Linked DNA regions of Homo sapiens. The protein of the gene in region 7 purifies or fractionates together with the protein of the main gene of each other region. This does not show direct contact. Each region holds a gene or a part of one and is shown on either strand. Other genes may lie near its edges. The genes, in order: CIBAR2, STRN, SLMAP, MYO1B, AGPAT5, CAMK2N1 and CAMK2B.

The links.
Region 1: the proteins of CAMK2B (region 7) and CIBAR2 purify together in Homo sapiens (affinity purification with mass spectrometry, with the first as the bait; one large-scale study listed by BioGRID). This does not show direct contact.
Region 2: the proteins of CAMK2B (region 7) and STRN purify together in Homo sapiens (affinity purification with mass spectrometry; 2 studies listed by BioGRID and IntAct, with this or other methods). This does not show direct contact.
Region 3: the proteins of CAMK2B (region 7) and SLMAP purify together in Homo sapiens (affinity purification with mass spectrometry; one large-scale study listed by BioGRID and IntAct). This does not show direct contact.
Region 4: the proteins of CAMK2B (region 7) and MYO1B purify together in Homo sapiens (affinity purification with mass spectrometry, with the first as the bait; one large-scale study listed by BioGRID). This does not show direct contact.
Region 5: the proteins of CAMK2B (region 7) and AGPAT5 purify together in Homo sapiens (affinity purification with mass spectrometry, with the first as the bait; one large-scale study listed by BioGRID). This does not show direct contact.
Region 6: the proteins of CAMK2B (region 7) and CAMK2N1 purify together in Homo sapiens (affinity purification with mass spectrometry, with the first as the bait; one large-scale study listed by BioGRID). This does not show direct contact.

Annotation. Positions count from the first base shown.
Region 1 is NC_000016.10:85,097,858-85,100,165, forward strand, and holds the end of CIBAR2 (CBY1-interacting BAR domain-containing protein 2), read right to left. Parts: coding exon 2,282-2,308; intron 1,490-2,281; coding exon 1,328-1,489; 3' UTR 825-1,327; coding exon of another isoform or gene 678-824; 3' UTR 501-677; downstream 1-500. UniProt on the Homo sapiens protein: May play a role in ciliogenesis. In cooperation with CBY1 may facilitate ciliogenesis likely by the recruitment and fusion of endosomal vesicles at distal appendages during early stages of ciliogenesis.
Region 2 is NC_000002.12:36,844,537-36,848,036, forward strand, and holds part of STRN (striatin), read right to left. Parts: 3' UTR 1-3,500. UniProt on the Homo sapiens protein: Calmodulin-binding scaffolding protein which is the center of the striatin-interacting phosphatase and kinase (STRIPAK) complexes.
Region 3 is NC_000003.12:57,762,809-57,766,308, reverse strand, and holds part of SLMAP (sarcolemmal membrane-associated protein), read right to left. Parts: intron 1-3,500. UniProt on the Homo sapiens protein: Associates with the striatin-interacting phosphatase and kinase (STRIPAK) core complex, forming the extended (SIKE1:SLMAP)STRIPAK complex.
Region 4 is NC_000002.12:191,251,904-191,255,403, forward strand, and holds part of MYO1B (unconventional myosin-Ib), read left to right. Parts: intron 1-3,500. UniProt on the Homo sapiens protein: Motor protein that may participate in process critical to neuronal development and function such as cell migration, neurite outgrowth and vesicular transport.
Region 5 is NC_000008.11:6,753,642-6,757,141, reverse strand, and holds part of AGPAT5 (1-acyl-sn-glycerol-3-phosphate acyltransferase epsilon), read right to left. Parts: intron 2,092-3,500; coding exon 1,968-2,091; intron 1-1,967. UniProt on the Homo sapiens protein: Converts 1-acyl-sn-glycerol-3-phosphate (lysophosphatidic acid or LPA) into 1,2-diacyl-sn-glycerol-3-phosphate (phosphatidic acid or PA) by incorporating an acyl moiety at the sn-2 position of the glycerol backbone.
Region 6 is NC_000001.11:20,483,411-20,487,482, forward strand, and holds the start of CAMK2N1 (calcium/calmodulin-dependent protein kinase II inhibitor 1), read right to left. Parts: upstream 2,801-4,072; 5' UTR 1,970-2,800; coding exon 1,804-1,969; intron 310-1,803; coding exon 239-309; 3' UTR 1-238. UniProt on the Homo sapiens protein: Potent and specific inhibitor of CaM-kinase II (CAMK2). Plays a role in the maintenance of long-term retrieval-induced memory in response to contextual fear.
Region 7 is NC_000007.14:44,315,595-44,319,094, forward strand, and holds part of CAMK2B (calcium/calmodulin-dependent protein kinase type II subunit beta), read right to left. Parts: intron 1-3,500. UniProt on the Homo sapiens protein: Calcium/calmodulin-dependent protein kinase that functions autonomously after Ca(2+)/calmodulin-binding and autophosphorylation, and is involved in dendritic spine and synapse formation, neuronal plasticity and regulation of sarcoplasmic reticulum Ca(2+) transport in skeletal muscle.

The DNA.
Region 1 (2,308 bases), on a different chromosome or scaffold from region 7:
AGTCCTACCTGCCCCCATACTTCAGAATGTGACCTTATTTGGAAATGGGGTCCTTGCTGATATAATTAGTCAAGATGAGGCCATCCTGGAGTAAGGTGGGCCTCTGATGATGGGCGTCCTTTATAGGAGGGGGAGGTTTGGACACAGGCTCAAGTGCACACTGGGAGAACACCACATGAAGAGGAAGGCCAGGTCCGGGGGATGTGGCTACAAGCCCAGGCGTGCCAAGGACAGGAGCCACTGGAAGCTGGAGGGGGCCTGGGATGGGTGCTCCCTCTGAGCCTCCAAAAAGAAACAGCCCTACTGACCCCTTGCTCGCAGATTTCTGGGTTCCAGAACACAGGAGAGTGATTTTCTGTGGTTTGAGCTGCCCAGGCAGTGGTGCTTTGTCAAGGCAGCCCAGGAAAGGAATCTACTGTGCTTGCAACATGAACACAGGGGCAGGCACGTCCCACCCAAGCCCCCAGACTAAAGGCAGAATGAGAGAGCCGGGATCAAGCTGAGAGTCACAGGGCATTTATTGAACACCTACTATATGCCAGGCACAGCGATCCCCCAGAGCAACCTGTGAAGTGAGTGATATTGGCCCTGTTGTACAGATGAGGAAACTGAGGCTCAGAGGACACGTGGCTTGCCTGAGGGCACACAGCAGAGCCCACCTGAGGATCCAAGGCCAGCTAAGTTCTTCTGACTGTTGTGGGCAGTTCTCTCTTATGGGGTCCCTGCCCCAGTGCCCTGAGGTCCTCCACGGGGGCCTCCTCCATGGAGTTGTCCTCACTCTCCTCCCCTTCTTTTCCTGGGCTCCATATGGTGCTCTGAGCACTCTAAATAATAATAATAATAAAACGACAGCAACATCAGTAATGATAATGGCAGCAACAAGTCTCAAGTGTTTGTTGCGCAACAGGCCGGGTTTTCTGTGCTTCGTATAGATCTGTTCATCTGATACTCAGCACAGCCCTACACGGAGGTTACTGTTCTAAGCCACTCTGCAGGCGAGGACTCTAAGGCACAGAGAGGCTAGGAGACTTTCCCAAGGTCACACCGCCGGGAGCAGTGGGCTCGGACCAAGAAATAGATAGCATAAAGAAAAACAATCAAAACTTCAGGAAACATTGGATACACTCACAGAAATGCAAAATGCTCTGGAAAGTCTCAGCAACAGAATTGAACAAGTAGAAGAAGGAAATTCAGAGCTTGAAGACAAGGTCTTTGAATTAACACAATCCAACAAAGACAAAGAAAAAAGAATCAGAAAATAAGAACAAAGCCTCCAGGCAGTCTGGGATTATTTTAAACGGCTTGGGATTGCACTTACCCTACGTCGTTAGAGAGAATGTCCTGGAAGCATGAGATGCCCACCCTGCCCACACACACAGTGGGCTGGCTGCCCCTTAACCACCCACTCACAGAGACTAAACCTGCCATGATTGGCATGAGGATGTTCAGGGTCTTCATTTGCCCTACTCAGCTGGACCTGCAGAGTTCCCTGCAGAAATATAAATGCACCTGATGGCAGGCCTTCCTGGGGCTGTAAGGTAACATCTAATGTATGTACCTAATCACCTCCCTAACCTCTGAGGAACCCTGGATTCTGGAACCCGCGGGCCCACGGGCTGGGATGGAGGTGTGGACCTGACTGGGGGCCTCTGTTTCTCAAGTGGCAATACCTCAGAGTGCCTCCAGGGAGTGCTCAGGACCCATGGCAGCCACGGCAGGGACCGTGTGGCCTACCACACTGGGTGACGTGGCTTCATTGATTCTACTTTTTTTTTTTTTTTCCTGAGACAGAGTCTCGCTCTGTAACCCGGGCTGGAGTGCAATGGTACGATCTCGGCTCACTGCAACCTCTGCCTCCTGGGCTCAAGCGATTCTCCTGCCTCAGCCTCCCAAGTAGCTGGGATTACAGGCATACACCACCACACCCGGCTAATTTTTGCTTTTTTTTTTTTTTTTTTTTTTTTAGTAGAGATGGGGGTTTCAACATTTTGGCCAGGCTGGTCTCGAACTCCTGACCTCAAGTGATCCTCCCACCTCAGCCTCCTAAAGTGCTGGGATTATAGGCATGAGCCACCGTGCCCAGCTTCATTCTACTTCAAGGCAAAGTTCTGGTCAGACCCCCGGGCAGCCCTCCATGCTCCCACCACCCCTGCCTCCTCAGCCTCCCATTTCAAATTCGAGTTCTCAGCCACCCTCCTCTAATCCCTGGGGTTACTACCACGGGCCTTCCAGGCCGTGCACGACATTTTAGGTGTAACCCCTCACCCACCCACACGCTCACCTGGCTGGCGAGAGACTGAAGAACAGA
Region 2 (3,500 bases), on a different chromosome or scaffold from region 7:
CATGTGGTCCTGGTTAAATTAAATCTAAAGCTTGGATTAGCAAAGATCCAGAAAATTCTGACCCCCTAAGCACCACTTTAGGAATACCGCCAGAATCAATGAGTGGGATCTAGGGATCTGTTTGGCCTAACATTTGTTTTTTTTAGAATTAAAAAAACAAAACAAAAACTGAAAGGATCTGTTAAATACTTTGTCAACCTGGCATCCCTGACACTGACATGAAGATCCAGTTGGATGATGGATATTGCCAATTAAAAAGTTTGTAGTGGCAAAAGTAAAAATGATTCAAATTGACGAATGACCTGTCCTTTGTTTTTAAACACAGATACGTTTTTCTGGGCCTTTCTCTAAAATGAACTTTAGGGCTTGATACATTTCACAAAAATATACATATTTTTCGTCAGCTACTACTTTGTATACAACCTGAATCCCAGTGTCCAACACTTAAAAGTACTGCAATTATATAAATTACTAAACAAGTTAACAGTAATGGAGAGGCAACTTCTGAGTAAATAAAATGAATGATTATGTACTTAATAGCCTTGTAGTCACTTTCAAAGAATAAAGTAATCTAAATAAAATTATACTTAGCACTCTTTTTCATGTAAGTTCAATAATTATTTGGCTATTGGTTGAAAACATCACACAGACAGACACCAACCAAAGATTCATTATCTCCACTCGCTAAAAACATTGATGGTTAATTTTAAGCAATTCTTTCAAAGAAAAACAAAATTAATTCTAAGCCTTTCAGTCTGATTTGTGACATCTTAATACAATATAACTTAAATGACAAAGCCTGAGAAAAGCACCAACATAGATTTTTTTTTAATTGCATCCAACCATCATTTCAGATGTCATAAAGATTTGCTTCAGTTAAAATGGCAGCAATGACAAAGAGGTAGATATGAGAGATGCTTTTTAAATATTTTAAGACTATTCTTAGGTGGAATTTTAACTAGTTCAGGTATTTAACCTAAAAATATTTACTAGTTGAATCTTTACCACATAAGAACTTCATGACATGCTGTTTTGTAAGAGGGAAATATATGAAGTATTAAAAAGTGAGCCTTTAAAAAATTACATTTACTTAGCCAACATTAATGAGATCCCATAATTTTGGTGAACAAATAATTTCTCCTTCTACCTGAACTTTACTATAATTAAAGAATAGCTATTGTTTTCTCTACTGAAATTTCTAGGAATTCACATTCAAAATTCTTGGAAAGTATATATGGTGCTCAGAAGAGCACAAAGCGCATGAAATGTCCCCTGAAGTCCTAGAAGTTGAGCAGATACATTAAAAAGACATTGATGGTCACAAATCAGGACCTTCACAGATTGGTAAACACACACACACACACACACACGCATGCATGCACACACACACACACACACACACACACACACACACACTAACTCTCTCTCTCTCTCTGTGCCCCCCCTCCCACCCCCTCCCCAAACTCAATCTTCATCCTCACTGTAAGGCTGCATTTTTTTTTTTAAAGGCACCTCTCATTTTCTAGCTATTGCCTTCTTGATGATATTTGTTTTTGTTAAAAAGTCTGAATGTTCAATGGAAATAGTTCAGTACTGAGAATAAAATATTTTTCAATTCACATTTGAATAGCCAGGTTTTCTTACATTCAGATTTTAATACACTAGAATGACAGTCTTTAAAACAAGCATGCTAGCCTATAATGAATATTGTATATACAGTAATTTAAACACTTAGAACTATATATTATACTGCAAAAGCAAACAGCACAACACTCATCATACTCATCATTATCTGCTGTGTATACTACCTCCAAAAATGAAAATACAAAACAGTAAAATGCACCTATGGTTTATATATATATATATATATATATATATATATATATATATATAGTTTATATATTATATATATTCTTACAATATATATAATATATATTTATAAAATATACATACATTTTAGACATTTTCAAATAAATCTTCATCATTATCTCCAAAAGAAATTTATAGCAAGAATACTGAAGGAATGAAAGTCAGATTAAAAAAAAAATTTCTCACAAAGTTCATCATCAGTGATGCAGCTCAATTTCCCCCGTTTTAGTCATAACTAAAATGATTATAAAAGCGAAATATTTTGCATAACTAAGTATTTGTTTAATGGCAAAAGTTGTTAAACTTGTTCAATAGAAAAATACTGAAGGTCATTATATCACTTTTGTTAAATAATCTGTCTATGGTTTGAGTAGCAAATGAGCTCCATATGACAGTTGAGTTTTGAGAAGGGTGCTGCAAGCTCCCAGAGATGTATCCACAGCATATGAAAATAAGGCAGGGATCCAAACCTCCCGCTAATTTTCATACTATTCCAATACATTTCAAACAAAATATTTACAAATGAAGCACTATGAAAGCATTTCAATGGCTGTTTAAACATTGAATTTGTTCATTCTGTGAATTTTCATTGAATGTTCAACAGGCTAGGGGAAAAGTCAGACACATGTATATGCTACTCTGGTTGGAAGACAGCTTTGGCTCATTTCTAGGCTGAGATCATGCAGTGCTGGTAGAGAAGACTCTCTCCGTAGTCTCCAATGCCACAGCACTGGCTTTCTAAGGAACTTTCAACAGTTCCATTTGCGCTACAGTCTATGTATCTCATGGTTATTTTCCACTCACTGACAGAAAAATTTCAACCATGAAGCATAAAATGAACGGGGGAAGAATGTCCTGGTTTTTAGAATTTCAGTGACATTAATAAAGCAGTAACTGAAGATCTTAGAAGGTAATTAATAACTGGTAGAACAATAGCTTTGTGGTCATCCATCATAAATACACCAAGTAATGGCATCTTCCTTCCTTCCTTCCTGGAAGGAATTTTCCAGTATCCTTCTACAAATGTTAGGTTAGAAACATTCTTTCTTCACTGTGAAGAACCAAAAGAAATTTACTGAACACAATATGGAATTCTGTATCTGCATGGAAATATTAAGTATTCACCTGACAGCTCATGTTTAGGTCAATTCATTTAATTACACAAAGCAGTCTCTTGAGCCTGCTTGTTAACCAAAGCACAAAGATGAAATGAAAAGGTAGCTGTATTACTACAGCATATCTGTATGAAAATCAGGCAAATTTAGCACAAGTCTCTAGCTTTAAAGAAAATTTGCCTGTATAATGCAGAATTCTAGAGGCAAACAGGCAGAAATTTTACAGAAATATTTGTCAATCATTAGCCACACCACCACCAGAATACTTTTTCAAGGAGTAGATGTACGTATCATGAGAAGCATCATTGTTATGACGATGGAAAATGTGGGGAATGGAATATGTAGAAATTGTTTTAATTGGTTAAAATATCTATAGATTTAATATTTTTAAAATCTAAGAGCCTATTTATATGTTTTTTGGTGGAAAGTTGGACGTTAATAATTTATTTCCAATTTCTAGATTGGTCTCTGTCATTTGGGACAAAGAGTAAGAGAGACATAAACCACTATAGAAAT
Region 3 (3,500 bases), on a different chromosome or scaffold from region 7:
TGTGGTGGCTCACGCCTGTAATCCCAGCACTTTGGGAGGCTGAGGCAGGCGGATCACGAGGTCAGGAAATCGAGACCATCCTGGCTAACACGGTGAAACCCTGTCTCTACTAAAAATACAAAAAAAAAAAAAAAAAAAAAAAATTAGCCGGGTGTGGTGGTAGGCGCCTGTAGTCCCAGCTACTCAGGAGGCTGAGACAGGAGAATGGCGTGAACCCGGGAGGCGGAGCTTACAATGAGCCGAGATCGCGCCACTGTATTCCAGCCTGGGCAACAGAGCAAGACTCCGTCTCAAAAAAAAAAAAAAAAGAAAGAAAATCAGACAGAAGCCTAAAAGGGCAAAGAGTGAATTTAACCTAAGGAGTAATGTCAAAGAACTAAGTGGGAAAAAAAATGCTTTAAGTATATACACTGTCGATATTTTTAACAATTTGAAATCACAGATAAAATATTTTATCAATTTCCCACTATTATGAAAAATAATATAGAGGGAAATGAACATGTGCTTTAAAGATATAATCTGGCTTCCTATACATGTTCACATTATGTGTCTTAAATACAACTTGTCAAGTAAAAGACTTTCTCACAAACACCAGCACCCCTTAATGATCTTTATACTTCTGTCAACAAAAAACTTAAGTATCTGTTAAAACAAACATACAAACAAATAAAAAGTAAAAGAATGTATGACCTGCCATTCTCCCAAAAGCTGAGGCTAGGATCTTTGTGGTCATGTTTAGATGTGTGGAGGAAAAAAGAAGAAACAATCTTGGTTGTCAAATTCAGCAGGCTCTTCACAATGTCTTCCTTACAATGTCCTTGGAACATGCCGTATCATCCCTGCTTCTTCCTCCCACCCAAAACTCCTTTCCCTGACTGACCCTAACTACAATCTATCCCTTAACCCCATATTTTTTTTTAAGATGGGTCTCACTATGTCACCCAGGCTAGAGCAATCATAGTGCACTATAGCCTTGAACTCCTGGCCTAAGTGATCCTCCTGTTTCATCCTCCCAAATAGGTGGGGCTACAGACCTGATGCACCCCTGGCAAATACAAGTTTTTGAACTTTTTGTTTTTTAGAGACAAATTATTGCTATGATGCAAAGGCTGCAGTGCAGTGGATTTTCACAGGTGCAATTTTGGCATACTACAGCCTCAAACTCCTGGCCTCAAGCAATCTTCCAGACTCAGCCTCCCAAGTAGCTGATATTACAGGCATTTGCCACTGTTCCTGGCCATTCTTCCTCTTTTTAAAAGTCCTAAGGTCTAGTTTAAATTGGATTTCATCCATGAAACTGTTTCATCCATTAAACTTTCCCTAAAGTCTTCAGTTCACACAGGACCTTGCGCTTTGCCGAAGTCCTAATGTGCAAGTTAATTTAATACTCTTATCTTTTTTCATTTTCTGGCATTTAATCATTTTCATTCCTACTGTTAACCTGGTCTATGCCCTCACAAAATCACATCATATCTAAAGTGTTATAAAGCCTTTAGAATAGCACAGTGGTTATGAGCTTGAGTTTAAATCTCAATTCTACCATTTAATAGCTAGGTGAACTTGACCAAGATCTCTCTGTGCCTCAATTTCCTCACAGGTCAATGCAGAAAAAACAAGCACCTCAAAGAGTTACTTGAAGATTAAATAAGTTAACAAGTAAAGCATTTAGAATAGGGCCCAGTATATAGTTAGTACAAAAGTGTTATTTAAGCTGTTACCCATTTTTCCTTGCTCCAGGCAACTCTACATACTGCTATTGTATCACTATTGTATCACTCTTTCTTTCTTTTCTTTTCTTTTTTTTTTTGAGATGCAGTCTCCCTCTGTTGCCCATGTTGGAGTGCAAAGATGGGATCTCTGCTCACTGCAACCTCCGCTTCCTGGGTTCAAGTGATTATCCTGCCTCAGCCTCACAAGTAGCTGGGATTTCAGGTTCATGCCACCACACTTGGTTAATTTTTGTATTTTTCGTAGAGGTGGGGTTTCACCATGTTGGCCAGGCTGGTCTCAAACTCCTGACCTCAGGTGATCCACCCATCTCGGCCTCCCAAAGTGCTGGGATTACAGGTGTGAGCCACCGCACCCGGCCCACTCTTTCTTAAACAGGGGTTTGGTATGTCAGTGCTCTGCTCAGAACTCTCGTAGGCCTTCCATAACCCAAGGGTCCACATCCTAAGCTTGGTAAGCAAGGCACTTCACAACCTGGCACCACACTATCTAGTCAGCTTCATTTATTCAACAACTACTTTATACAAGATAGTAGGAAAACGTTCCTGTCTTCCAGAGTGTGAAAATTAATTACAAAGACAAGGCACAAACAAGAACATCACACAGAATAGATGTGCACCCTTGGCTACTCTTCAAAGAACTCTCTAATCCAACAAAGTCAGTTTCCTCAGCATTTGGAAAATGCAAAGCTCATTCAAAATTATCTGCTTTTTATTCCATCCTCATCCCCACAAAAAAAATAAAAATAACCAAAAAAACACCTTTTCTTATCTATCCACCCCTAATTTTAAAGTCAAATGTCATTATTCTTTTGCCATTGAAACTTACATAATATCACCTATCTCAACTATTTTCAAAGTGCACTGTCACCCTCTCTATCCAATGTAAAAGTTCCTAGAAAGAAGAAATAACAAATCCTCATCAGTTTGTCATTTTCTCCCCCTTTACCACTATGCCCTTCACTAAAACAAATCATGATAGAACAGGTGCTCAAAAAGATGCACTAGGCCGGGCGCGGTGGCTCACACCTGTAATCCTAACTCTTTAGGAGGCCGGGGCGGGTGGATTGCCTAAGCTCAGGAGTTCGAGACCAGCTTGTGCAACATGGTGAAACCCCGTTTCTACTAAAATAAAAAACAGTAGCTGGGCGTGGTAGTGTGTGCCTATAATCCCAGCTACTCAGGAAGCTGAGACAAGAGAATTGCTTGAACCCAGGAGGCAGAGGTTGCAGTGAGCCGAGATCACACCATTGCACTCCAGCCTGAGTGACAGAGCGAGACTCCATCTCAAAAAAAAAAAAAAAGATGCACTAAGTTTAAATTAAACGTGAGACTAGAAGTAGACAACTACTACCACTAGTAAGTAAACTTCAGTGAAACTGGAAATAGACTACTATGTCAACCACTAGCATGTCACCGGTACCCCAAAGCCTCAAATCAAATAGGGCCATCCAAATCACAAGAGTTCACTCACTATCCTTTCTATGTAACCACTATATGGGTAGATCTGCTTGCTCAGTGGTGCCTTGAATCAACAGAGGAATTAATAACCATTCTAGGCTGGGCACCGTGGCTCACACTTGTAATCCTAGCACTTTGGGAGGCCGAGGCAGGCAGATCACCTGAGGTCAGGAGTTCATGACCAGCGTGGCCAAATGGTGAAACCCTGTCTCTACTAAAAATACAAAAAATTAGCCAGGCATCTGGGCATGGTGGCTCATGCCTGTAATCCCAGCTACTTGGGAAGCTGAGGCAGAAGAATCACTTGAACCC
Region 4 (3,500 bases), on a different chromosome or scaffold from region 7:
TTTCCAGTGTACACCTTCTCTCTCCATCATTGCTGCTTTGCTTTACATTTTATATTAGATCCTGAATTGCTATTTGTGATGTTCAGATTGCAAATATACTAGCTTCCTAACTGATCATTTTTTCCCTTAAAAGTACTTCAGAGTGATTGGTCACTGTTTTATTCATTTTAGACCCACAGTCTAAATGCTTTAAGGAAAAGCTTAATTTTCATAGACATTGGGCCTATGCCAATTTGCATGGCTTGTTATTTTTGTGATCCTCATATTATCTGCTTCTAGTCATAATCGGTAGATCACAGTTTTGAGCTACCCCTGATATAGTGAGCCATCTATGAAAAAGTTCTCGCTTGCCTGAAATTTTCAAAGTGTTGAGAGCTATTCATAAAAATGTATGAACTGCCACGTTGGTCAGGTTCAGGGCTTATTTGCCGTAGTACTCTGCAGGTATTCTGTGACATTCAGGAAGGAAAATAGAGTTAGACTCCTGATGTCAGCTTTGTAAAGGTTCATAGATGTCTCTTGAGTATCTGTAATTACATGATCTCTTAAAAACCTCTTATCCATGTACTGAAATTCATCTTGAATTGTTTATTTTTATCCTGCATTCACACAATTCACACTTTAAAGATAGAACTTGATTATATTGGTATTTTTATTTCAAATTTTCAATTTTTGGAATGGCAGAATGTTGCTATTGAAAAGTGTCTTAAAGGTCACCACTGTAACCCCTTCATTGTGCTTGAGACCTGCTCAGCTCCTAAATTTAACAGGGGACGGATCTGAGAAACTGACTCCAAGTTGTAACCTCTTGCTTAGTTTTCTTTCTAGGGAGATATCCGTCTCTCCAAACCTGTCGAAATCTAAATTTATTACCTCTTACCTAATACTTGGTCCCCTGTGGACTTCACTTCACTGTTTGTGCTAATAGCCTTTTCATCACCATCTTGACTTTGGATTCTAGAGCATCACCTACTTCCCCATTTTCTGTGACCCTTACATTCCTCCTGTCAGTCACTATGTCTGATTTATTGTTCTCCCCTATCTTTTGCCCTTTGCAAATCCTCAAGCCCTCATTCTGGTTCAGACCTTTAAAAGGCTGAGTTACTGGAGTATAGTGTTACCCAAAGTGAGTTGTTCCATAAAAAATTAGTAAGTTGGAAAAAAAAACAAAAAACAAAAAAATACCCTACCCATAAAGTTGGTAAATGTTCCTGTAAAAAGGGTTCCTTGGCCAGGTACATGTTAGAATAGCTGGTTAAGTTTCTTTGCAGAAAGACTTCTCCTGGCCTTCATTTGTGACTGTGTACTGTGAATTCCCAAGAGAAAGATACAGTATTCACTTGTCCCAACTTATGTCACCATTGTACCACGTTTTGGGGGGATCATTTCGTAGATAACACTGCTATAGTCACTTCACTGTAGCTTTTTAGGTTCTGTCACTGCCTGGCTTCCTGTGGGAATGTGCATTCCATGTGAGCCGTACTTGGTTCACTCTCAACTGTGTCTTGTGCTTTTACCTTGTTGTTCTGGATCGTTCCTTCCCCCCAGAAGCCCCTCTCCCCTATCACACTGGCACATCTTTCAGTGCCCAGCTTTGTGCCTGTCTTCTCTGTCAGTTTTCCCAGACTCAGGTTGCGCTTGTTCTTCTGAACTTAACTGTTTCACAACTTAAAAAAAAAAAAGAAAATATTTGAAGCACAATGAAATGTTGAAAGTAACCTTACACATTCATATGGTTAAATTATTGGAATTCCCACAAAATTCCATTTTCCATATTTGCGTCAGTTGACACATCACATGCACATCACATTCTCCTCTGTTTCCCCCCACAGGTTAGCTTGCACATATGTTCAACAAGCTTGTTGCTTGTGGGGCTTTTTTCTTTAATTTTGTGTTACTGAAATTGTGTTGCATTTAAATAGAAATTCAGGGAGAATTGACATCTTTATGGTTTAATGGCTTCCCATCCACAAACCTCATAAGCTTCTTTAATAGTTCTTTTATGTCCTTCAATGAAATTTTTATCATTTTGTATGTAAAACTCTTTCATACCGCTTGTTAGATTTGTGCCAAGGTGCTTCATGGTTTCTGTGGTCATTTTGAATGAATGATTTAGTACATTTCTGGTTAGTGTTGCTGGTGTACAAGAAAGGGATTGATTTTGTATTTGTTTATAAATAGTTCTTGATTGATCAAGTTCACATCTAAACCTGTGTTTGCTGTGGGAGCCTGCAGTTGGGTGGCTTTTCCAATACAGCATAAAATAACTTAGCCTTTATTGAAAATGTCATAATTCACTTTATTTTTATTTATTTATTTATTTTTTGAGACAGAGTTTCGCTCTTGCTGCCCAGGCTGGAGTGCAGTGGCATAATCTTGGCTCACTGCAACCTCCACCTCCCAGGTTCAAGCAATTCTCCTGCCTCAGCCTCCCGAGTAGCTGGGATTACAGGCATGCAACCACCACGCCTGGCTAATTTTGTATTTTTGGCAGAGATGGGGTTTCTCCATGTTGAGACTGATCTCGAACTCCTGACCTCAGGTGATCCACCCACCTTGGCCTCCCAAAGTGCTAGGATTACAGGCGTGAGCCACCGCGCCCGGCCTCTTTTTTTTTTTTAGAGACAAGTCTGGCTCTGTTGCATAGGCTGGAATGCAATGGCATGATCGTAGCTCGGTGCAGCCTCATACTCCTGGACTCAAATGAGCCTCCCACCTCAGCTTCCCAAGTAACTAGGACTATTGGTGTGCGCCTCCATGCCCAACTAATTTTTAAATTTTTTGTAGAGGTGATGTCTCATTGGTCCCAGGCTCCTGGCCTCAATCAGTTCTCCTGCCTTGGTTTCCCAAGTGCTGGGATTACAGGTGTAAGTCACCACACCTGACCTAATTTAAAAATTATATGCAGTACTTTTAGAAGTAAGGAAGGGGTGACTTTTAGTTATTTAATGTGTTCATTTATTAACTCATCAAATGTTTAGGTGCCTAGTATGTTTCAGGCACCGTACTAGGTACTGTGTTTTTGTTTTTGTTTTTGTTTTAGAGACAGGGTCTCTCTTTGTTGCTCAGGCCGGAGTACAGTGGTGTGAACATAGCTCACTGCAGGATCGAACTCCTGGGCACAAGTGATCCTCCTGTCTCCACCTCCCAAGCAGCTAGGACTACAGGCAGCATCTCCACACCCCACTCATTTTTTACATTTTTTTGTGGAGACGGGGTCTTTCTATGTTGCCCAGGCTGGTCTTGAACTCCTGGCCTCAAGTGATCCTCCCTCCTCAGCCTCTTGAAGTGTTAGGATTACAGGTATGAGGCACTACACCCATCCTGTACTGAATCTTTAATGTTGAACAAAACAGATGTGGTTTCTGCTCTCATGAATGTGAAGGGGAAGAGACATTGTGGAAATGGACACGGATAAATATGTATTCGTGGATTAGCATCGATACTGTGAAGGAAAAGGACAGGGGGCTGTGAGAAACAGAAAGGCGGAGAGAGGGAAA
Region 5 (3,500 bases), on a different chromosome or scaffold from region 7:
TTTAGATTTTAGTCACTTCAGTATTTCAATTCAAAAAATATCAATCAGGTAGCTATTACACGCTGGAAAAGTTATGCAGGTCCCTGGAAAATAAGGATGAATACGGAAACATCCAGAAACTTGGTTTAATAGAAGTTTCTAGTCTTCTAAAATATCTTTAATATGCTCTATGATTAGTATACATGAATTGTATATGTAATATTTCAACAGGTGGTTTTAAGGCATTTTATGAGGATGCTTTTTGTCTTTTAAACTTTTGATAAAGTTTTACAGTGACCTGACTCACAAATGGCTAATAACCCGCTGCAGCTTCTCCTCCTTTTTACATGGAGCTCCTATTCCGCCAGAAGTCAAAGATAGGACCAGCGGTTCTTAGACAGCGGTCCCTCTGTATCGACAGGGGGCTGGTCCCAGGATACCCGGCAGAGACCAAGATCAAAGGATGCTCAAGTCCCTGATATATGAATAAAATGGCATGTATTTGAATATAACATATGCATATCCTCCCAAATCCTTTTTTTTTTTTTTTTTTGAAAAAAGGCACTCTGTTACCAGGCTGGAGTTGGCACAATGATAGCTCACTGCAGTCTCAACCTTCCAGGCTCAGGTGATCCTCGCACCTCGGCCTCCTGAGTAGCTGGGACTACAGGTGCACGCCTGGCTAATTTTTGTATTTTCTGTAGAGACAGGGTTTTGCCATGTTGCCCAGGCTGTCTTGAACTTCTGGGCTCAAGCAATTTGCCTGCCTTAGCCTCCCAAAGTGCTGGGATTACATGCATGAGCCACCACAGCCAGCCCCCTTTTTTTCTGAGTATTTTTGGTCTGTGCTTGGTGGAATCCATGAATGTGGAATCCATGGATATGGACTGCTCACTGCACCTGGGCTGTCTCAAAAACGCCTTTATTCCCACAGAATTAGAAAGGCAGGTAAAAGAAGGAAAACAGCATAGTTAACTCATTTTCCCATATTACATAAGATTTGTAAAGTTATGATAGCAGAACATACCCGATATAATAATCTAAAACACAAACAGAAAGGGAAAGCGCTTCTATTGCTTTATAAATCACACACCCTAGCAATAATCATTGTTTTAAAATGTCCAGAGGTATTCTAAATACTTATAAAATAAGTAGGACATTAAATACATTAGTCTTTTTTCTGAGAACATATTTTCATGTCAATACATGTAGATCTTACTTTTAAATTTCTTCCATGGGCCAAAGTGGTCCTGAATGGCTCGCTGAATACATTACATCATGTACAGTTAAGAGTCAATGAAAAATAGAAGCTTAAAGTTTCATTGTTAACCTATTACACTTTTAATCATTTTCACCTGGTAAAGTTAACCCAGGAGGGTTAATTAAAAACACTGTACTGTAAAACAAGGAAAAGAAGAACAATGATAGTTTCTTGAGCAGAAAGTACATATTTAGAGAATAAAACAATTGGCTAAAATTTCTGAATATAATTAACCACAGAAGACACTTTGGATATAACGCTGTCAACTGCCCCCTTCTATTTCCAACAAATATAACAGCATCATGTCCACCTGCACGTCCGCATAGTCCTCTACCCCTCCCTTGCTTTTCTGCGCACACTGGCCCAACAGCCAGACCTCACACAGTAACACCACTTTATGTGACCTGACAGGTAGGTCCGGGCATCTGACACTGGAAAGTTTTTTTGTGTGTTTGTTGTTGTTTTTAATTTAATTTGCTATGTTATCACGTAGTATTGTCCAAGAAATACTATCAATGCAAGTAGATGGGCCCACTGTAACAAGTTCTTTTAGACTGATTTGTACAAGTAAAGTTTAAAACACGATCAGACATGCATAAAATTTGATTTGAATTTATAAAATGTATTCTTGAGACAATATAACCATTTACATTGGTTTCAAATTGTTGACTATACTGAAATCTAGTTGAACCGAAGTTCCGGAAGTGCTGGAACTGTTGTTACTCACTTATCTTTGATTTCGAAACGTTCATGCAGCCATCTTCTCATATGTTCTTGTTCTTCTGGGACATCTTTTTTGTCGATACGATCAATGTGAATATGAATTTTTGGACATTCTTTGCAGAGAAATTCTAACAAAGAACAAAAATAATTCTTTTTTTTTACTATTTTAGAACTCATGGTCATATAAAGTAAAAATGAAAATAAGGTAACAGGACAAAAAAAGTTGTAAAATGAAGAAAAAGTACAGATTCCTTAGGAAAAATAAACAAAAGTTAAAAAAAAAGGATTATAAACTGGTGGTTGGGGGTTTCAAGCTGAAGTAGAAGAGCATGTTATAATTTCTAAGTCAACTACAATTACATAAGTCATTAAGTTAAATCAATAGTACCAAATGTTATTTTTCATGTGACAACTTTTAGTGCTATAGACAGCCCAGGAATAGGAAGCTGGAGCCTCCTCTAAGTCCATACTCACCTCTCTGAAGGGACCCGCAAATGCCTACCACCACCAGCCCCATCCTAGTGTGTCACCTGTCACCATGGTGACTGCTGCCTCCCCACCAGACTGCGAGCTCCACAGGGGCCGAGAGGAAGCTGGTCTGGCTCACGATGGCACCTCCTGACCTGGCACACAGCTGGGCACTCACAGGCGCCTGATAATCCTCAACTTTGCTTGTCGCCTGACACACAGCTTCTCGTCACTGACTGCTACACAGCCACAACAAACTTGGGGGAGCAATTGCCCCTCCTCTCTAACTTGGCCATTGGTTTCTAATCATTGCCACTCCTTGCTTTCCTGATACTTGCCATATTTTAACATATTATATAATTGGTAAAAGAACCAAAATTATTACTGTGGAATAGCCATGAGCCCTGTAAACAACTGTAGTTTCTAAGACTTGCTTATTTGAAAAAAGGAGACAGTCTTTTTCAGCCTCGATTGCACAAGGTATGAGGCTATTATTTATTCCAAGAAAGAACGGAGACTAGAAACTCCCTTCTTTGTAGGGGGCTCCCTGTGGACAGGTAAGAATGTTAACATATTTAAGTTCCTTGAAGAACAAAGAAATATTCCTAAGATTTAAGAGCTGACTAAGGTAGGGAGGTATGCCGAGTGGGAGGCTGAGACCTTTGGCCTCAAATTGAAAATGCGTTCAAAGACGTGTTCTGAGAAATGATGAATTCTACACTCCACCGTCCGAGGAAGACTTGTCTTTGCTCCTTCAACCCCACACACTTCCCGTTTTTGCTAAGTACTCTCTGCAACTGCTCTTCTTGACTTCAGTGTCGAGCTCTTAGTAACATGCAGCATTTAGGTGATCAAAAATACCCTGTATTCTTACACACTTCCAGGAGTAAACTGGCTTTAATAATACATGTGCAAAACACTAAAATAAAGATTTTAATTTTTCATTATTTTTGTCTTAATTTTCCTACAGTACTATCATCTGAATAATCAAAGAACTGCTTAAAAAGTATTTTTAGCAGCACAACTGTGCCCTAGGGAAGAGCACACATGGTGGAGTCAGGTAGCCTGG
Region 6 (4,072 bases), on a different chromosome or scaffold from region 7:
TAAAATTTTATTTATTTTTTTATTTTTATTTTTGCAGAGGAGCCCAGAGCCTTCTCCTCCTCCTCCTCCTCCTCTCGCCTCATCTGTCTCCCGGCCTGATACCAGATACAGGTTGTTGATTTCATCGTGGGTAGCAAGCTAGTAATAAATTTCAAAGTGCTTTCTCTTTTCATGCTTTTTGCCAATAACTGTTACCGCCGTTCTTATTCTCTCCCTTAACTCATTGTCTTTGGGGGAGTTAGACACCAGGAGGTGCCTTGTCGGTCATATTTTTCAGCACGTCATCAATCCTATCATCTTCAATAACAACTGCAAAAAAAGGGGGGAAAAGAGAGGTGAGCGCGCTGGGGCCTAGCCAGAGGTCTCTGACATTTCCCGTTATGCCCAGAGTGGGAGGTCGGGAGAGGAGAGGGCGAGGGAGCAGGGCTCACTGCGCGGTGAAACAGCTCCATCCTCCGTCCCTGCCAGGGGTCCCTTCCCTGCTTTCCTCTGAACCACCCACCACCCTCTATCCTCCAGCCTGCGTCCCAGCTCCATTCTGAGAAAAGGAAACAGAGGGCGCCAACCCAGCCGCTCCTGCTGCAGCCAGGGCGCGCACTGGCCCGCGTCCTCCCCGCACCAGGCGCACTAATTTAGACAGAAATGTCTGGAGCTGGGATAGGAGAGGGAGCCAAAGTCTTTGGGTCTCGGGACCCCAGGTAAGTCCCGAGCGCAGCTCCGGTGGGCAAGGCTAGGTGCGGAGATGAGCGGAACCAGGAGGGGACGCCAAAACCGGTTCCCACGACGCGCAGCGGGTGGGGGTTAGGGCCTGGCCTGGGCGGGCGCCCCCTCCTGCGCGCCCTCTCCCAGCCGCTGGCCGACTGACTCGGCCGCCCCGCGCTCCCCGCTGCCGCAGAGGTCAGAGCCTCCCTTCGCTGCCTGCCAGGGACACATGCCGTAACCTCGGCCTCTCTTACCGTCTCGACTTAGCCTCGCCTTTCTCAGTCCCTCCATCGTCCCTCGGCGCGACGGCCGGCAGCCGATCGAGGTCTCTGTCTCTCCCTGTCTAAGGTGTCGGTCGCCCTTATTGTTTCGGCGGCTTCTGCGTCCTCCCCAAACGCGCGTCCTCGGCTCTGTCTCTCCCGCTTCAGCTCCCCTCTCGGGAGCTTTGTCTCGGTCTCTGCCACCCTCGGTCTCCCGCGTACCCCCTCCCCTCCATCCCTGCGTCTCAGTCTCTCTCTGCAGCCGTCGGTCCCCCTCATTGTCCCCGCGTCTCTGGAGCTCCTCTCGGAGCCTCTCTGCGTCTCCGCCTCTCTGGGGCTTTTCCAGCTCTCGCGCGGATCGCCCAGGCCTGGCAAACCCCCTCCCAAGCCAAGTAACAATGAAAAGCCCGTGCGACCCGAACACCCTAGCCTTCCCCGCAGGAATGGGATCCTCCCCACGCAGGTCCCCACGCCGTCCCCTGGGGGTCCCTGGGACCCCCTCCCCACAGGGTTATGGAGCGAGTGCAGCTGTGACTACACTGCGCAAAAGGCGGGGGTGGGGGGCGCAAATCAAAAAGCAAACTTTGCCGCGCGGGTGGAGACCCCCAGCTGCTGCTAGAAGCCGCCACGCCCCCAGGGTGACCCAGCCGGGGATCCGGCTTAGGGGGACGCGTTCCTGCGACCCGCTTCAGCCGGACCCGCAGTGCGGGATCCCCCAATTCTGCAAGAAGGGATTCCGTCAGGTCTGAACGGGCTCCAGCGGGTGGGAGACCTCCGCAACCCTTGTTCAGGCCGCGGCGCGGGAAAAAGGGGGTGTCAGACAAGGGGGCCGCGAACTCACCCCGCTTGCTCCGGCCGATCTGGCCCAGCTTGGGCGGCCGCTTGTTCTGCCCGGCGCCGAAGAAGTTGTTGGTGTCCTGCAGGCGGCAGGAGAAGATCTGGCCCACGTCGCCGCCGTCGCCGTAGGGGCTCAGCTTCTCGTCGCCGTAGGGCAGCACCTCCGACATGGTCGCGTCCGGGGGCTCCGCCGCGGCGCCTCCTCCGCCCGCGTCCCCGCCCGCGGCGGACAGGGTCAGCGGCGCTGGGGCCGGGGGCGGCCGGCCGGGGACGGCCCGCGGGCTGCTGCGGCGGTGGCGCCGGCGAGAGGCCGGGGGACGCCGCTAGGGCAAGAGCGCGGCACTCGCGCGAGCGGCCCGGAGAGCGCCCGCGGCTGCGCTGCGCTGCGCTCCGGCTCCGCGCGCGAGTGGCTGCTGCTCCGCCAGAGGCGAGCAGGACTCACATCCTCGGCGCGCTGGGGCTCTGGGCGGGGGCCGGGCCGGGCGGGGCCGCGAGCCGGGAGGGAGGAGACGTCCCTGCGAGCCCGGAGGGCGCGGGACCGAGGAGGGCGCACCCCGGGAGCCGGGCGGGCCGGTCCTGCGGCGAGTGCGGGCGGCGGCGCCGGTTCGGGGAGGCAGACTGGGAGCTGCGAGCGGCGGGGCTGCGAGGGGCGGAGGGGGAGGGGAGGGAGAGAGGAGGGAGGGCACCGGGGAGGAAACCCGGAGGGAGGGTGGGGGAGAGAAACCGAGAGGGAGACGGGGCTGAAAAACAGGGACTGAAAGACAGGGAGGCAGGGGAGACGGTGGAAGGAGACAGAGGAGAGGGGGAGAGGAAGGAGAGGAGGAGAAAGAAGAAAAGGTGGGGTGGGGGACGAGCTAGAACGGAGAGACAGGGGAAAGATGAGAGGAGGAGGGAAAGGATCGGGAGGGAGAGGAAGAGGGTCGGAGAGGGAAGGAAGGGAGAAAAACAGAGGGGGGAGAGGGAGGCAGGGATAGAGGAGGCAGCGAGCTGCGAGGAGAAATGCCGGCCGCGGCGCCGAGGCGAGGCGCGGGGAGGAGGGCGGGAGGAGGCGGGGAGGAGGGGACCCGCGGGCCTCGGGGAGAGATCCCTGCGAGCGGAGCGACGTCACGGGGCCGCGCCGGCCGGCCCGGGCTGCCGCTAGCTTCCTGCCCCCGCCCCCAGCCCCCGCCGTCCCGCTCACGGGTGTTTACGGGGCCCGGAGCTGGTGCGCGCCCGCCCCGCAGCCGGCTTTGCCTCCCGAGGGGACCTCGGGGGGAGTGGGGGTTCCGGGAGCTGGAGAGGGAGCGGACAGACGACGCACACGCGGGGAAGGGCGGAAGCATGCTGACCCCCCTGGGGGGCAGATGCTGCGGGGCAAAGATCGGAGGGCTCCAGGGCGACCCGCGGACATAGCCTCCCCCGCCATCTGCAAACCGGGGAGCCCTTCCTCCCCACCACACTTGCTCCCCAATTCAGACCCTGAGGGCCCAGCCACTGGGGCCTCACACTCTCCTCCCGCCCCGGCTCAGTCCGACCTGGAAGGCCTCACTCCCCCACGCCCCCGCCCAACTGCGCTGGACTCCGGCTCCCGCAGGGCCTCCAGGAGGGGGAGGGGGAGAGGGAAGGGGCAGCCCCGCCTCCCGCAGGAGAAGGGAGCGCCTCATTACGCCGGGCTCGCCCGGGATGCCTGGCTCCCGGCGTCCGCTGCCTCCGCTGGGGACGTCCCGGGTCTGCCGCCCTCTGCCCTCGGGGGTCTCCCTTCCAGCAACAGCCGTGCGCCCTGTGGAGAGACTATGGCCTCTGAGAGGAGGAGCGGGCTCCTCGATGCCGGGAGGGAGACTGGGGCAGCCCCAGAGGCCTGGGAGGCGCATCTGCCAAGCAGATGGTAACTCCGAGGGGGCAAGGTGCATGAGGAGCGCTCATTATCCTCGCCGGAGCCAACAGCACCTGCCCTCCGCTGGAGACCGTCTTTGCTTAGTAGAGCCGGCCTGACCACAGGGAGGGGCAACCACCCCAAGGTCATGCCAGCTGCTGGAGGCAGGGCTAGGAAACACATCCAGGTGGCCCAGGTGAGTCTCACCTGGCTCATCCTGCTGCCCTGCAAGGGGTCCCATCAACAGTGAAAGGAGCTCTCCCCTCCTATCTAGAACTCTGGCGGGTGGGAGCTGGAGGCAGAAGGGGAAGGTTTTTTCCTGGTATAACATCTGGTGGAGGGGGGAGTCAGTCCAGCCCCCTCTCCAAACGGTGTAAAAGGATTGGCTGGCCTCGGGAAGCCAGAATCCATGGGGGGAGGA
Region 7 (3,500 bases):
GTCAATTTTTGCAAAAAACGCAGCTGGAATTTTCATAGCAAAAATGTAGGTCAATTTGGAGTATACTACTATTTAACAATATTAAATATTCCAATCCATGAACATGGGATGTCTTTCCATTAATTTAGGTCTTCTTTAATTTCTCTCAACAGTGGTTTGTGGTTTTCAATGTACAAGTCTTGTACTTCTTTTATTAAATTTAGTATTAAGTGTTTTATTTTTTAGATGCTATTGTAAATTGTTTTTCCTAATTTTGTTATTTTGAACTTCTAGTCCATTGAAATACAATGGATTTTTGTATATTGGTCTTACATCTTGCAACTTTGCTAAATTCATTTTTTAGTTCTAATAGTTTTTTAAATGGATTCCTTAGGATTTTCTATATACGAAAGCATGTAATCTGAAAAGAGAGGTAGCTATAACTATTTATTTCCAATCTGGGAGCCTTCTATCTCTTTTTCTTGCCTAATTGCCCTGGCTAGAATCTCCTATACCGTGCTGCCTAGAAATGGAAAGAGCAGATACATTCAGTTTTCCACCATTAAATATGAGGTTAGCTGCAGATTTTTCACAAATGTATTTTATCAAGTTAAGGAAGTTCCTTTCTACTTGTCATTTGTTGAGTTTTTATCATGAAATGGTATTGGTTTTTTTTTAAATGCTTTTTCTGCATCTATTGAAATGGTTCATATAGTTTCAATGTTTGTTCTATCAACGTGGTGTATTATATAGATTGATTTTTGTATGCTGAATGAACCTTTCATTCTTGGGATACATCCTACTTGTTCATAATGTATAAATAATCCTTTTTATATGTTGCTAGATTTATTTTGCTAGTGTTTTGTTGAGGATGCTTCATCTGCATTCATAAGTGATAACAGTCTGTAGTTTTGTGATATCTTTGGTTTTGGTATTAGGGTATTGCTGGCTTCACAGAATGAATTGGAAAGAATTTCCTCCTCTTCTACTTTTTGGGGGAGCTTGTAAAAGACTGGTATTAATTCTTCTTTAAATGTTTGGTAGGATTTACCAGTGAAATTATCTGAGCCTAAGCTTTCCTTTGTGGGAAAATTTTAAATTACTAAGTCAGTCTCTACTTGTTATAGGTCTATTCAGATTTTCTATTTCTTCTTGAGCCAGATTCAGTAGTTTGTGTCTTTCTAAGTATTTGTCCATTTCATCCAGGTTATCTAACTTGAGGGCACATAATTATTCATAGTTATTTCCTTATAATTTTTTTTCTGTAAGGTTGGCAGTAAGGTCCCCTGTGTCATTCCTGATTTTAGCAATTGGAGTCTTCTTTTTTCTTGGCTTTACCATCCTTTTTATAATAATAACCTTCCTCCTAACTAGCACTCCTGAGTCTTCTTAATTATTCTCAGAGGTATTAATCACCTTCTACCCTATCATATAATTTTTTTAGTATTTATGTTTATTGCCTGCCTCTATCCAGCAGTATATAAGCTCCCTAAGGGCAGGCATCCTTGACTGCTTTGTTCACTACTGTTTCCCAAGCACCTATGGCACATGGTAAGTACAGGCAACCAGACTTGCTGAATAAATGAATAAGTCTTCAGGAGAGCAAAAGAAATCTGGAACAGACTAAGACAGCTATGACTGTAACTATTATCCTTAAAAGAAACCAGGAAAAATGAAAAAAAAAAAAAAAAGCATGGTGATTTTGAAGCTCTGGCCCTGTGTTGTCCAATACTGTGGTCACTGTCACCATGTAGTCATAAGAACCTGGTCCAAACTGAGATGTGCCGTAAGGGTAAAATACACACCAGATTTCAAGACGTAGTACAAAAAGGAATGCAAAATAGCTTAATAATTTCTGTTTTGATTACATGTTGAAATGATTTTTTAATTTTTGTACAGATGGGGTTTTGCCATGTTGCCCACGGTCTCTAACTCCTGGGCTCAAGTGATCCACCCACCTTGGCCTCCCAAAGTGCTGGGATTACAGGCACGAGCCACCGCACCAGGCCTCTGAATGATATTTTGGATATAAAGTTAAATAAATATATTTTTAAAGTTCCTTTCACCTGTTTCTTTTTTTTCTTTACGTACTAGAAAATTTTTAATCACACATATGGCTCAACTTTGTATCACATTTTATCTCTTCTGGACAATGCAGCTCTCGACAACTTGGATGGGGTGGGCGGTGGGGTAGTAATGTCATTGTGAATGTAGAGAAAATGAAGGTAAACTTCAAATTCATGCCTAGGTGGGCTCTGAAAGAACCAAGGGTTATATGAAGGAGTGTGGGCTTAGGCGAGTGTCTGGCCTCAGGTGCAGACTCCTCTGCAGAGTCTAGGTATGCAGTGCCCATTGGAATCACCTGGGAGCTTTTAAAAACTGCTGATACCCCATTTCCCTAGTGTCTGGCTAAATGCGATGGGGCCTGAACACTCCTCAGGGGCTTCCCATGTGTGGTTGGGGTTGAGAACCACCACATGGTCATCTTCTTTGGGAGGGCCTGCTCCTAACCAGACTCCTACCCTTTGCCCAGAAAGCCCCTAACTAATGGCCTGGATCAAACTCACAGACGCTGAGAATCAGGCAGCACCTCAACAAACAAGAAGTCATGTGAACAACCTCATTAAGAAATTAGCTGAAAGCTGCAAGCCTCTTGGAGTCAAGCTCCATGACAGACATATAAGTGCTGACAGCCCTGCTACTGCATTTCACCGGGTGACAAGACTGTCTACCCAGACTGGACATCAGAATACCCGCAAGACCTACCTGCAGAGCCACCCAATACCTCTTATAAGGCCCTCATCTTTTACAGGGTGGGTGTGCCACTGCTCTGGGAAGCAGTCCCAGGTGCAAGGCCTGAGTGACCCAGACCATTGCTGAGTCACTGTGGAGCACCTACTGTGTGCCAGGCACTGTTCTCAGCACTTGAATTCAGGGTGTGTTGGGTGACAGAATCAAGGCTCCTCAGCTCCTTGCTGGAAACGGCACTCACTGGGATGTGCTTGACACCCAGAGGGCATTACAGCAAAAGGCATAACACCTGCAGTACTTCATTGTAAGGGCGACAGCAGCTCCTGCCCTCCAGGCTTCTCTTGCTGCTCACAAAGTGAGGAAACAAGGACTGTGGGTCCCAAATTCCACCCTGTACAAGTGTGCCATTATGCTTCCTCCCATAAAATCTTCTTAAATCTTTGCCTGGTTGTTGCCAATCTGTTCTAGAATTCAACAAAAGCTTCTGTCTGGCTTAACAAAGAATCATAACTTAAGTTATTTTTGGATAATTATGTCAATACAAAAAGAACTATGTCCACCAGGAACTGAGCCCTCAACAAGTGACCCTCTAACCCAGGAGACAAAAGCCACCCAAAAGTTTGGCAGCTAGCAACACCACCTTTCTCTAACATAAAAGGATGTTTTCATTTTAAATAAATTCAAGTTTTTCTATGAATAAAATATACATATCTGTGTAATATGCCAATATGATAATTTTTTAAAAACCAAGTTGATACATAATGCATTTT